Linked DNA regions of Homo sapiens. The protein of the gene in region 2 purifies or fractionates together with the protein of the main gene of each other region. This does not show direct contact. Each region holds a gene or a part of one and is shown on either strand. Other genes may lie near its edges.

What was found. The genes of interacting proteins can lie anywhere in the genome.
Region 1: the proteins of C1orf198 (region 2) and DAAM1 purify together in Homo sapiens (co-immunoprecipitation; 2 studies listed by BioGRID and IntAct, with this or other methods). This does not show direct contact.

Annotation. Positions count from the first base shown.
Region 1 is NC_000014.9:59,184,636-59,191,684, reverse strand, and holds the start of DAAM1 (disheveled-associated activator of morphogenesis 1), read right to left. Parts: upstream 3,019-7,049; 5' UTR 2,917-3,018; exon of another isoform or gene 2,771-2,916; intron 1-2,770. UniProt on the Homo sapiens protein: Binds to disheveled (Dvl) and Rho, and mediates Wnt-induced Dvl-Rho complex formation. May play a role as a scaffolding protein to recruit Rho-GDP and Rho-GEF, thereby enhancing Rho-GTP formation. Can direct nucleation and elongation of new actin filaments.
Region 2 is NC_000001.11:230,837,507-230,844,531, forward strand, and holds part of C1orf198 (uncharacterized protein C1orf198), read right to left. Parts: intron 6,391-7,025; coding exon 5,848-6,390; intron 2,403-5,847; coding exon 2,346-2,402; 3' UTR 1-2,345.

The DNA of each region.
Region 1 (7,049 bases), on a different chromosome or scaffold from region 2:
AGAAATTGTAACTACAAAGAAACAGTCGATGTGAGTGAATGTATTCTAAAAGCAAATAATTAGGAAATATGTCTATTTCAAATACATAGAAGGCCTTTTATGCCAGACAAGTTTTGGTTTATGATGAAATGAAACTGCTTGATAGAAAAGCTAAGGGGAATATTACCACGGATGACAGAACTATCAGTGGAAATAATAGACCTTGGATCTCCAATCATAGTTCTGCTACTTAATATTCGTTTAACATATATTTATTAAAGACCTACAAATGAACAAACTGCTCTAAATGCTGGGGGGACAGAAAAGGACAAAACAAAGACACTGCCCTCAAGGAGCTTATAATCTAGTAGGGTAGACAAGCAGAAGAATGAAGGAAATTTTCATTTAATGGTAAGTTCCAGGAAAAAAGTGACAACTTCTGATCCTGTTTCCTCATGGGGATGTAGCTACCTACTTAAAATAAGATCGTAAGTGTCAACCACCAAGCACACAGCAATCCCAAGCATTTACCTGACTATGGATACACATGCACAGACACTCTCATATACACACTTTCCCCCATAATTGCAACATCTGTGATAATGCACATTGGTATAAAATGCAAGCAGAGGGGAAACAAAATATTTATATGTCAATTACACTTAATGCAATTACAAATAACTGCATTCATTAGGAATCTATAAAAAGGCAAAACCTAAACAATTAGTTATAATACTAAAGTATAATTAGAAGGGTCCAGATACTGGAATAATAGTAGTGGTAGTATAAACAGTATTATAAATAGTCACATAGCTGCCTTGTCCATATAACCTGACGGCACAGTATCAGAAGCCAAGTTTAAACCCTTAACTTCAGATTACTTTGGGGTCGGGGACGAAAAAGGACAATGACCAAGTCTATCTTGGAATCATAGGCCATTGCGCCTAGAATTAACGTTAGGAAACCCTCTCTACCCTTTCCTCACATTACCAAAGAGAAGACTGAGGTTCCCAGAGGTAAAGGGTTAATCCCAACGTGGAGTAGCCAGTGACTGACAGAGCCAGAGTAGGACCCAAGGCTCCTGGTTATGGCCCTGCATGCTTCACCCTCAAGGACCTGCGCCCTCTAGCCTGGCTTTAGATTTTATGAGAACCACAAGGGACTGCAGTGTCTTCCAGCCGTTATTAATTGTCCCTAATCACTTCCAATCAGCTGCACCTAGAGCAAATTGAGGGCCTTTGCTGGTGACCAGAGAGCTCTCTTTATGCACAACAGGGGAGGGCGCCTTTCATGACAAAGCTGCCTCCAACACCATAAACTACCTTATTGGGGAAATGATGCGGCTAGCCCGAAAGGGGGAAGAGATTTTTCAAATTATAATTTTCAGAGTTTGCCTCAGGAAAAAGGCGCCAAACAATTAGTTTCAGGGAGAGAGGTGGCGTGATGAGGTGTGGCACGGGGAAGGGAAAGGGGTTTAGAACTGTGTCCAAGCTATTTAGGAGAGAAAGGGGAGAGTCCCGGGGCTGTGAAAGGGGCGAGGAGGAGAGAGCAGCTGGGCCAGGGCGAGCGTTTGACCACACCCACTAGCCACTCCCTCCCAGCTGCCCGCAGAGCCACATCGAATCGAAACAGCAGTGGCAGCGGCTAAGATTCCGAAGGCAGGAGTCGCCATGGCAACGGGATTCATCTTGCAGGCAACTCCGCTTCGATTCACTGGGTCCTGCTCGAATCTCAAGAAACTACCAGCAAAACGGTCACGGTGGCATTTGCTCTTGATGCTCTCCAGAAAGTGGAGATGAAGGAGAGGGGAATGGAGTTCAGGCATCACTAAATATGTTATGGGGCGAGAGGTAGCTCCGCAAAGCCAGGCCGTGAACAACTTGAGACCTTAGCAGGGTTTGATGAATGAGTAAACGAACAAATGAAGGTACTAGGAAAGGCAAAGAACATCCAGAGGACTGAGAGCTCTGGGCCTCCTGCACGTCTCCACTCAGAGGGCAAGCCGATCACAAGCAGTTGGCTTTCAGAACCAGCTGGGTAAACCCGATTATCCAGCCCTCCTGCCCCACAGCGAGCCTAATCATTAGATTATCCGACACCTCCACCCCCGCGCTACCACCTCCTGGCCCAGGGCTTCAGGGCAGGCGCTTCGCCCCAGCCCAGGTGCTCTACACCAAGGGACCGTGGAGACTGAGATGCGCCCTCCCGAGAGGGACGGGCGGCAAAAGCCCTCTGCGGTGCCTCACAACCGGGTCCGCAGGCGGCGCAGCCTCCCCGGCCGCCAACACCCTGCTCTCCCTCCGCAACGCCCGATTTCCCTTCTCTCTGTTTTGAAACATTTAGGTCCAACTTAGTCTGAATTACAGGCGCTCCGTCCCTTTCGAATGGGGCTGGAAGTGAGGGTGCCAGGGGCACTGGGGGCTCTGCTCGGACGCGAACGGGTACACGAGTCCCTCCTTCCCTGTCGCCACCGCCGTGTCCACCAAGCCTGCCTCGGGGTTCTCCCTCTCGGAGCCGCCGGGCCGGGAGCTCGCGGACGCCGCTGCAGTACCCGCGGCCCCAGCCCCGGGGAGCCTTCAGCAAGGCGGCGAGTGTTACCCCGCCAGCTCCTCGGCCAGCCGGGCGCCTTAGAAAGAAAGGGAGGGACCCCAGTCCTTGGGGGCGTCTTCCTCCCTGCTGCCTCGGTTTGCGTTGCGCTGCAGCCATTTTCCCACCCCCAGCTAGGCAGCCGAGAGCTGTCTCGGTCCCGTTCCCACCCAGACCCAACCTGAAGGACGGGTTTAATATTTACCTACTGGCCCGGGAGCTCCGGGGAGGCAGCAGGAGGGCGCGCCGCGAACCCAGCGCCCAGCCCACGGAAGCACGCCCACCCCCGCACCACTGAGCAGTGCCACTTAATGAATGAGTGCGGCGGGCAAGGAGGAGCGTCCCCCTTACCTGAGCAGCCCCTGCATGCTGGAAAGGCGGCTCTGCACTCTGGGTACAATGGGATCCGGTTAAACAGTTTCCTTCACAGCCGCTCGTAGGTTACTAACTCGCAGGTGACATCACCCTCTCCTCGCCTGATAGGATACAAAGTGGCTCCCACTGCGCATGGACGCTCCGGTCGGGCGCGCAGACTCCTGGGAGTAGTGGTCCCAATCTATTAGCGGAGCCGGGACAGCTTTGCTGTCGGGACTCGCGGAACTACATCTCCCGACACACTCCTCCGCCCTTCTGCCCCGCCTCTTATTCCCGCCCCCTTCAGGACCCGCCCCCTCCCAGCCTTACAGCCTTGCAGTGTTAGCGGTGGTCGTTCCGAAGCCGAGCTGCGGACCGCACGGGAGAGTGGGAGGGCTGCCCTGCGGTCGTGTGTGTTGACTTGACCTCTACTTTGCCCGGCGCGGGCTCTGAAGGATCGGAGAGGTCCGGGGCTCGCGTGGTCCGGCCAGGCTCGCTCTAACTGGTCTTTCTTGGTCCCTGCTGGGAAGGGACGATTAAGACTTTTCTGCCTTCCCCAGGCGTAGCAGCTAATTCAGAGGGCTTACTGTTTTCTGGGTTAAATACGGTCCTCGAATTCTCCCCGCTCAACACTTCCAGAGGATGGGGCGACGCCGGTCCCAAGGCGGAGGAATCTCCTTGTACCCCCTCAATTCACCTTTCTCTTTTCTGCTTCCCGTTTAACGGAGACAAGGTGACCAGGCAGAACGCGGGGAACCACTTAGTCGGCTGAGCTGACAGAATAACGGAGGTTGTCACTACCAGAAGTGCGGTGTGATAGACTAGACAGTCGCCGCAACCCTCCGTCAGGGCGCCTGCTGCTGCTGCAAAGATAATACTATCGTGCAGCCATGCTTTTGTTCATCCCTGCAGCAGACTTCCCGCGCTGGTGGCTCTCCACTCCCAGGAAGAAAACGTCCTTGTCTAAAGTTTTAATAATTGTGTATCTATGTATACACATGTTTTTAAATCCACAACACTCTCACCTCATTTTCCATACCTTTTCAAATATTTTTATAAAGACATTAAACCAAACAACATCGTGCCGTTCAAGAATTGCCCTGCTCTTAACACACCTAAATATTTATTTAAAGGTAAGCAAAAGGTGTGTAGCAGAATTCTGACCCTTTAGGCAGGTTGTATTGTTAATACATAATTTTTTCCGTGGCATTTTTCATTATTCAGTGAATACCAAGTGTCTTTTAATATGAAAAGAATCAATGCATTTAGTTACTCGAGTTGTAAATGTAAATTTTAATGGCATTTGATGTGTCTCAATTCCATATAATGATCAGCTCACACACCCGTTCCACTAGCAAAATCTCTAGAAGACTGTGCATCTTGTGAAAAAAAGGTTCACAATTAAGATTTCAGACAACTCCCTACTGAAGTGTTGGTGGAACTCTTATCATTTATTTTCTCCTTTCATTCTGCAACACTAAGTTGGGTTCAAGTGAAAAAATATTTATGAAATTAGTTGAGGATCTCAGGGGAGAGGAAATGCTTTGTTTTGCTCAGAGAGATGTTTAGCGATGAATTCTGATGTTCTTTTAACAAGCCTGTTCTTTATAGACAAGACCCACTTTTCTCCCCCGAAAGAAGATAGCTTTGAATGTTGCTCTTCTGTCCTCAGCTACTTCTTCCATTTCAAATATTATCTAAAATGAACTCTGACAATATAAATTTTCCCCTGGCCATCAGATCAAGGATATAATCACTGATATTCTAACTAATGGGTAGACTTAATGTAACGCAGTTCATGGTGGAAAAATATTCAGAGAGAAACTTGACCTGGGATGATTCTAAAGGCTCTTCTAATTTTATAACTGTGTAAAGCTTTTAGACTGAAACATAATCAGTGAGCCTGAAATTTATTGAGTCAATAAATTGAATGTGGAGCCTTTCTGTTAAGACAGGGCTTATCCTTGTAGATAAAAGTATGTTACTGAGGCACACTCTGAGGAGTAATTTTAATGGAGAAATCACCTTACAACAAGTTCTCTTGGCTCTTCAGTAATGAAGGAGAAGATGCAGTCTGTCTGAAAACAAAAATTCCATTCTCTTTAACAATATTATAGGGATGTGCCATGTGACATAGTCATCTCCATATAAAGGACAGCATACACAATAGACTGTAAGCACATAAATGTGGAGAAATGCACATGTGAACTGCTCTTCCTATCTAATAGCTATAAATATAGATAATAGATGTAGAAAGAGGGCATTGTGTTTGGAAAAATTATCTGCAAGTGGTGATGGATTTGAACTGATCCCTGCACAGTTTCATTGGTAACCAAGGGAAACAAAGATGGCTCTTTAACATGAGAAATACAGTCTGTAGAACTAGCAGCAGAGGAGGCTTAACCACTTCTTTGGAGACAGAAGGAAACTCACACACACACTCTCTCTCACTCACTTTCATACACAATCATTGTGTATGTTTGCATTTAATTTTTTCTAGGTGGCCAAGTAGTCTCATAAATCATCAAAAACACCCACTCTGTCTAGCTAATTGATATTCTCAGTCAAAATGGGTTTCTTTACTTTCTATCTTTTCATTTTACATAACTGCTGCTGTTCTGAAGACCTTATGAAAAGCCCTGCCTCATCCCATAATCGTGGCCTATTAATTAGGAACCTGTGAGACCACTAAGAACAGATTTGACAGTCTATACAGGTAGGGGATGAGGAGAAGGCACCACGAAGCATTTTGATGATCTTTTAAAATCACCTCTCTCAGTGCTGGTTATAAGGTTTTACTCTAGATACTGGATTTTAGATAAAGGAGGAAATGAGTTATCAACAGAGAGAAAGAAATGAAAGTGTGTAGCCTTGCGTGTACTTTCATGCAATAGCTTGGTGTTTTGCAACAATCAAGGTTGTATGCTAAGCCCAGGTTTGGGATTGTGCCATTCCATTATTTGTGATCCATGTTACTTTGCATATTTGTGTTATTTATTCTCTCTGAGCCTCAGTTTCCTTATTTATAAAATAGGGTTAATAATAATATATATTTCATGAGGTTTTTGAGGATTAAATTAAATGAAGCATGTAAAAATATTTTTCAAACTGAAAAGCACTATACAAATGTTAGTTCTTGATATCATTTGCAATTTTTCCCAAAAGATTATCTCAGAAATGTCAGGCCTAATTATGGAACAAGGTAATAAAAACCCATTTAAATTAAAAATTCTTATTCTTAACAGAGACTATTAGAAAGAATATAGCATGCACATATTATCTCACTCTAATTGGTAAGTAGGCAAAATGTACTTTGAAGACTAAAATGAGAAATTCAGGGTTGAACAGTGCCAGTCCTTGACTTGTTCTCAGATCTATATGTTCTTCCTCAGGATCCCCTGCTGTCCTCAGTAACATAGGGAGCTTTTCCCAAGCTTCCCAGCATGGAGAGGCACTGCTGGGGGATTGTAGGCAGGAGGAAGAGAGAAGCTAGGGAATTTCTTCACTTCCTCAGAGGTGCATTGGGTGATGTTTCTGGCAGTGGCAGCAGCATTTTCCTTGTTGGACTGGTCTGTCATGGTTCCAGCTTCTTCCAGGTCACCCTGGCCTTGTAACACCACCTTCTCCCTTTGTCCCTCTTGCCTAGCGGTAGAGATAGCTTCCTGCTGTTGCTAATCTCTGCGTTGGGTGTTTGGCTTCACAGATCTTCTATCACAGTATGGCCAATTCTCTGGACCACATTATCTCTGTTTTAAATACTACTTAGAATCGTTTCTGTTTTTTTGGTGGAACACTTTAACTGACATACTCACACTTTAGTTAAAGTTCTTTTAGGGGCAGACAACAAGAACTTTCTATGGCCAGTTTATGCAAAACAAAGAATGTAATGGGATTTATTCAAAGGATTAGACAACCAAGGCTCAAGACAAACAGGAACTGGACAAACTAGGAACCTAAGCAGTGGTAGTTTTCAGACCTCTCCAGAGCACTGGTCTACTAGCACTAAGACTCCGAGCTCTTTGTTCCAAATTTCAAATTCCTGAGAGAAGCTTATTGTCCTATGTCAGGCAACAGTCCCTGACTTAATTATCTTAAAGTACAATCCCCAGACCAGCAACATCAGTATCACC
Region 2 (7,025 bases):
AAAAAATAAATATAAACTCCTGGTTTGAGAAACTCCCTCATGATGAATGGGAGGAAAATCATGGCAAATGGAGAGCTAAGAAACCATCTTCGCATAGACTTTGCCCAAGGTGTAGAGGAAGATCTGCCGGTCAGGCAGGATGAAGACCCACACAGGAGCCTGTGTCCTCCAGGTCGTCCCTTCTTCCAAAAGCACAGCAAAGCAATACAACTTGAGGACTCCCTCCAAGATTTCCTAATTTTTGATTTTACATTTAATCTCAGGAGGCTATACCATTAAGAAACATTATTAGAGTTATTGCTGGGTGCTGGGCCCCAGACGATACTAAGTGAGGCAGAAGCTTTCAATAATTCCTACAGCCCTCAGCACCAAGAAGAACTTGGAGGGAATATTGGGCTTGTTGAGAAAGTGGGAAAGAAATTAGAATTTCTCCCAATAGAAGAGGCAGATCACCTTGGCCTACTCTCTAGGACACAGGTCTTTCTTCTGTGCTACACCAACACTACAGAATACAAACTCATACATATACATTTGCTACCATAGGTTCTACAACAGCCCCATGCCCTCCAGGCAGAAGGTGGAGGCAGGTGGCCGCTGATTCTGAGGATCCCTGTGTGAACAGTGCCGTTAGCCCTGAGGGGAGCTGGCGCTTGCCCAGGCTGTGCCAACTGGGATTTCTAAGCTCCTTTTTCCCTCACCACCATGCTGAAACCTTTTTTTGCCTCACATATATCAACTATACTTAAATGGTACAGAAAGAACCAATATTTGAAAAGTTACAGTAAATCACTGAAGCAGAAAGATAAAACTATACCCCAAGGATCCAAATGAGGTTTAGGGACATAAAACAATTGGCAAGAACCAAATCAAAAGTTGGCTATGCCACAGCTTTGGCAGAAACTTTCCTGGAGATGATGAGGGGTTGAGGTGAGTTGCTATGTGCTTTATTTTGGAGCCAGATAAAATATTCTGGAAATCATTTCAGAAGGTCCTATGAAACAGGCATTTAAAAAAAAAAAAAAAAGAAGAAGACACACTTTGGTATTGAAACCGAGCGCTCACTGGCAGGTGTCGCAAAGATTAAGGCTTCAGGTGAGAACGCAGTGATGGCAACATGGAGATGGCGCCATACCGGGCTTGAGGCTCTGCTCAGACGCCTCCTGCAGGCTCACACGGCTCAGGGGCCACTGGGCAGGACAGCCTCTGAGTGCAGCAGCTTCCCTAGGGGAGGTGGACCACGTTGTACCACTGGGCAGCCTTGGTGTCTGCACCAGCTCCAAGAGATACTGCTGCTCTGACACCACGCAGGTCTCCATGGGCACTGCTGAGTTGACCGCAAACTCCACTCTTCCACTTCTGGTGGTGGTCAGGGCTGGGGAAGGTCCGTCATGACGCAACCTGGCTAGCCCTTGGGATAAAGAATGCCCACTGCTCCCATCAGTCCCATGCTGGAAGACTCTAACACAACTAAGCAGAAGAGCCCTGACCTCCAGCCACATCTGCCGTCTGCCCTGACTCCTGTAGGTGCCCAGTCCGGGGAACAACCAACAGGTCACATAAGCAACAAGAACTTCCAAGAGGAAATGGATATAAAACCAAGGAAAGTGGTAGCCCCATTGTTGATAATCTAGATACAAAATAATGAAAAGCTAGTACAAAACTCTTTAAACATGCAACTCTTTTTAAACAACAATCCATACTCTGAATATGTATCAGAGCAGGTTAAAGACTACACTGCTACATACCCGCAGTCTGTTCCCTGGAAATGGCGTGAGGGTGGAGGCTGGCACATGATGTGAGAGACATGGCTTCTGCCAGAGAAGCCCCGGACAGCTGCGAGCGCTGGCTGAGAACGTCGCTGGGGGCCAGTCTTTCCGGGGTCACAGCCAGCATGCTGATGTCATGGCTGATAACATCACCCTCAATCACCCACCAAAAGGAACCCATACGGTAAAAAGCGGAGGGGGGAGGGGGAATAATGGAGAAGGAGATGGAAATCACTTATATGATTTTTGTGACATGGTTGAAACACATCCTTTGAGGAGGGGGAAAGTTGGGTGGAGCTGGGAACAGAAGTTTTATTTACAAGATCTCCTGAATTATTAACAGACCTTAAAAATTCCAAATGGAAAACTTCTGTTATCAAATCACTGAAAATAGCATATATATCTGGTTCTACCAAAAAAGAAAAAAATCTGGCAATATTGACCAGTTTCCAAATGATTAAGAAAAGAGTGTCAAGAAACCAGTAAAATACATAGGAAAAGGTGGCCCTTTTTATCCTCCTCCACCACACCACTTTGGAAAACATTTTAGGGTTCTTCATTGTATTTTTCTAATACATTTTACCAATTGTCCAGAAAATCAAATCCCGTCTTCAAGACGACATTACTTGAGCTGACCTGTAGAAGGGACAAAAACATGGAAGTAAGACGAGCCTCTTTTTTTCAGTTACGTATAATCTAAAAACAGCATCTCATTTAAAACGACCCAGATAAAAGAGCCTACTTCTGTCTCAGAGGTTCCCTGACCTCAATTTATCTCAGTGCTTGAAATCAGAAGATTAAATACAGTTCAATGCAATCTATACTCTGCCAGCATCCAACACTAACCCCTCTTCAACCCCAGGCATGTCTGTGAGCAGCTTACAGACCTTACAGAGAAAAGAACAATGTCTCTGTATTTTTCTATAAATCTTTTCTGTTTCTGAATGACAGCCATGTTTAAATTTATTCATCCTAAATAAGAGAACAAATGATAAAGATATTCCTTCAAATATAAAACAAACATCACACACAAACACAACAAAAAAGAACTTGTAAAGTTGAGAAAGTAAACATAGTGTGGAAAGAATGTGAAGCTTATTTCTTTCAGATCTTGTGAAAGGTTATGAAGTGATTTTCCCAAACTCTAAGCTCAGCCTCCGGGGCTCAAGCGATCCTCTTGCCTCGGCCTCCCACGTAGCTGGGACTACAGGCATGCACCAGGCGTGCACCACAAGGCCTGGTTTAATGTCATTCTTCTTTCAGGGGAAAGGGCTTAACTGACAGGTCCCCTCTTGTGAGCATGGGCTGTCTCAAGCTGCTGCTGTTTTCATAAAACTTCTGACTGGCTTCCACTCAGCAGCCTGTTTCTGATGTCCCTTTCCTCCAGCCTAACACCGGCAGGCATTTACCTGGTGCGCCAAGGTCTTCTTGAGCAAAGAAACCTTGACTCTCCACCCTCCAAGCAGCCGGCCAGCAGAAAATGCATACATGGCGGCAAGAGCAGGCAATGGGCTAATGGGCTTGCCCTTGACACCTGTCTCAGGCCCAGTTTGGCTACATGTGAGACTGGTGCAGAGTGAGGCAAAACATGCAGAATGGAAGGAGTGCAATCCAGTTTTCCTTGTTCTGGTTTCCTTCCAGTTTCTTAAATGCAGTGGCATTTCACTGTGCTTTACTCAGAAATCTGTTCTCTCAAAGGAATTTCATGTGCTGTCTCCTACTCTCCACTGCCCACACAGAAACACGTTCCTGCTTCTCTTTAGAGTGGGGACTATCACCTATTTTATGGAAATACTTCTTTCAGAGGAAGCCCTCAGTGCCGAGTCTCAGAGAAAGAGTGCTGGTTAGGGAGGCAGGGAACTGAGCCTGTCTGTAAGGAGGAGCTGATGGGCAGGAGGATGTGAGACAGAAAACAGAACGGAGAGATGGGCAGGTACCGGAGAAGGCAGGAAACAAGAGGGCTGAAAGCACTAGCTTAAGAAGGTGCAGAAACACGAAGAGGACAGGCTAGAGCACTGATGTGGAGCCGAGGTGGGCAGAAGGTACTAGCACCGCTGGATCCTCCCTCCTCGGGAGGACAGCACGTGCAGCCATCTGCCGAGGGAGGTGTGGAAGTACTGGAAACCTGCTCTGGGGGACATTCAATGTTATCAGTGATGATCTCAACTCAACAACAAAATAACCAAAAATTTAAAAATGGGCAAGGGACCATTGGACATTTCTCCAAAGAAGATACACAGATGGCCAATAAGCACATGAAATGAGGCTCAACATCATTCACGATCATGGACAGGCAAGTCTAAACCACGGTGAGACACCACCTCATACCCCTTCGCATGGCACCAGCAAAGACACAGAAAATAACAAGTGTTGCAAGGGAGTGGAGAAACGCGAACCCACATTGATGGGAATGTAAAATGACGCAGCTGCTGTGGCGAACAGTATGCAGGTTCTTCAAAAAAGTAGAAATAGAACCACCATGTGATCCAGCAATTCTACATCTGGGTATGCACCCAGGAGAAGGGAAAGCAGGGGCTGGAAGACTTATTTGTACATACACGTTCACAGCAGCACTATTCCTAACAGACAACAATAGCCAGAAGGTGGAAGCAACCCAAGTGTCTGTCGATGGATGAGTGGATACACAAAATGTGGTCTAACCACACGATGGAATATTAGCCTTAGAAGGCAATTCTACACTTGCTACAACATGAATGAGCCTTGAAGACGTCACATTAAGTAAAGTAAGTCAGTCACAAAAGGGTAAATACTATATGGTGCTACTTATATGAGGTACCTAGAGGAGTCAAATTCACAGACACAGAAAGTGGAATGGTGGTTGCCAGGAGCTTGCGGGGAGGGATGAATGAGAAGTTAGTGTTGAACGGGTCCAGAGCTTTAGTTCTGCAGGATGAAAGGAGTTCTGGAGATGGATGGTAGTGATGGTTACACAGCATTGAGAATGTACTGAAATGCCACCAAATTTATACTGTAAAATGGTTAAAATGGTAAATGTTTGTATATTTTACCATAATAAAAACTTTTAAAATTCAGTATATGGAACCAGCCCAAATGCCCACCAATCAATGAGTGGATAAAGAAACTGTGGTATATATATACGATGGAATACTACTCAGCCAAAAAAGGAATGAATTAATGGCATCTGCAGCGACCTGGATGTAATTGGAGACTATTATTCTAAGTGAAGTAACTCAGGAATGGAAAATCAAACATCATATGTTCTCACTCATAAGTGGGAGCTAAGCTATGAGGATGCAAAGGCATAAGAATGACACAATGGACTTTGGGGACTCGGGGAAAGAGTGGGAGGTGGGTGAGGGATAAAAAACTACAAATTGGGTTCAGTGTCCACTGCTCGGGTGATGGGTGCACCAAAATCTCACACATCACCACTAAAGAACTTATGTCACCAAATACCACCCAAAACCTATGGAAATAAAAAATTTAAAAAATAAAAATTAAAAAAAAAAAGAGTGACCCACAAGAACCAAGGAGTCTCAAGGGCCAGAGGAGGATGGGTGAGGCTACCATGGAGGCAACTGCATCCTGGGCTCACTCCTCAGCAAGGCAGCCAGGAGCCCAGCGAGGCCCACAGAGGGGCAAGACCCAGTGAGGCCTCTCAAGTGTGCCTGCCTGCTTTGCCAACAGGCAGCTCCCCTGGCCCAAATCCAGACCAGTCCTAAAGAACAGACCATTGCCTCTATGGACAGCTCCCAAAAAGAAGGCCCAACACAGCTTTGAGCTGTGACAGCCCTGGGCGCAGCGCCTTCCAGGGGCCTCTTCTGATAGCAGCCCGCGCACTGGGGAAAGCGCAGTGGGCCACGGAACCCTGACTGGTAAACAAATTAGGGCACCCAGATGGACTCGCAAAACTTGTCTTGTTGCATATTTGTTGGTGGCTCAGCACCCTGAGCCTAGGCATCCTCTGAGGAAGAGGCAGGGGAAGGAGAAGAAAAAGAGCATGGGCACCTGTGGCCTGCCTGCTTTGTGGGGGACCCTCTCGGTTCCCGTGGAATAAGGCACCATCCCATCTGAGGACGCGCTGGTAAAGGCCACTCACCTGTGCAAACTTGGGTTCCGAGAACAGGGTGTCTTCCCCATCGTCCTGCCTGACATCAGGAGATGGCAGCTTCCCCTCGAGCTGGGAGGGGGCAGCCTCGTGCAGTGCACTGCTGAAGGCCTGGACAGGCTGGGGTCTCTCACGTTCGGTGCTCACGTTGGGAAGAGGACGCTGCTCCTGACGGAGGGTGCTGGGCCTTTCCACCTTGGCCTCCCTGTCCTTCGGGGCAGGTTCCTGCCGGTAGCAGGGAGGCAAGACCTTTTCCCCCTTCTCCATGGACTTGATCTGGCTAGGGGTCAGCGACTGGAACTCGGCCTCAGGCCCCTCCCCTCGGGACCGCTCAGCATTGATCTTCCAGAATGACGCTTCCTCCTCCTTCCTGGTGGGGCCCAGGGCGTCCAGGCTGGAGGACCTGCTGCCTTGGGAGGACTTGAGGGCCTGGGAGCCCTGGGAAGCTTTGGACAGTGGTCTGGGCTCGCTGGCGGCGGTGCCGTTGCTCGGCTCCTGGATGGATAGGGCGGAGATACTGAACTCCATCTGACTCTAGGGTGGGACATGAGAAAGGACAGAAAAAAGAAAGAGATCCTGAGAATCGACCGTCACAAGTGTGCCAGCTCACGCACCCCTCCTCAGCATAAGGACGCACACCAGCCACACACGAGTTGTTGCCCATGTGCTGGAACTGTCTGTCCTGAGTGGTGGGTATGGTCAGGACTCCCATCGCACACCTGAAATGCATCAGAAGCTTAAATGCCAAGGCCGGGTGACAGAGTGTGGGTGGTGGTCCCCTCCCAAATCTCATGTCGAACTGTAATCCCCAGTGCTGGAGGTGAGGCCTCGTGGGAGGTGTCTGGATCACAGGGGCGGATGTTGTCTTCATGATGGTGACTTCATGGCTTGGTGCTGTCTTCATGATAGTGAGTCCTCATGAGATCTGGTCGTTTAAAAGGGTGTGGCACCTCCCCCTGACTCTCTCCCTCTTGCTCCTGCTCTGCCATGTGAGATACCTGCTCTCCTCCGCCTTCCACCATGAGCCACAGCCCCCTGAGGCCTCCCCAGAAGCCAAGCAGATGCCGATGCCATGTTTCCTGTGCAGCCCGCAGAACCGTGAGCCAATTAAACCTCCTCTCTTTATAAATTACCCAGTCTCAGGTATTTCTTTAAAACAACACAAGAAC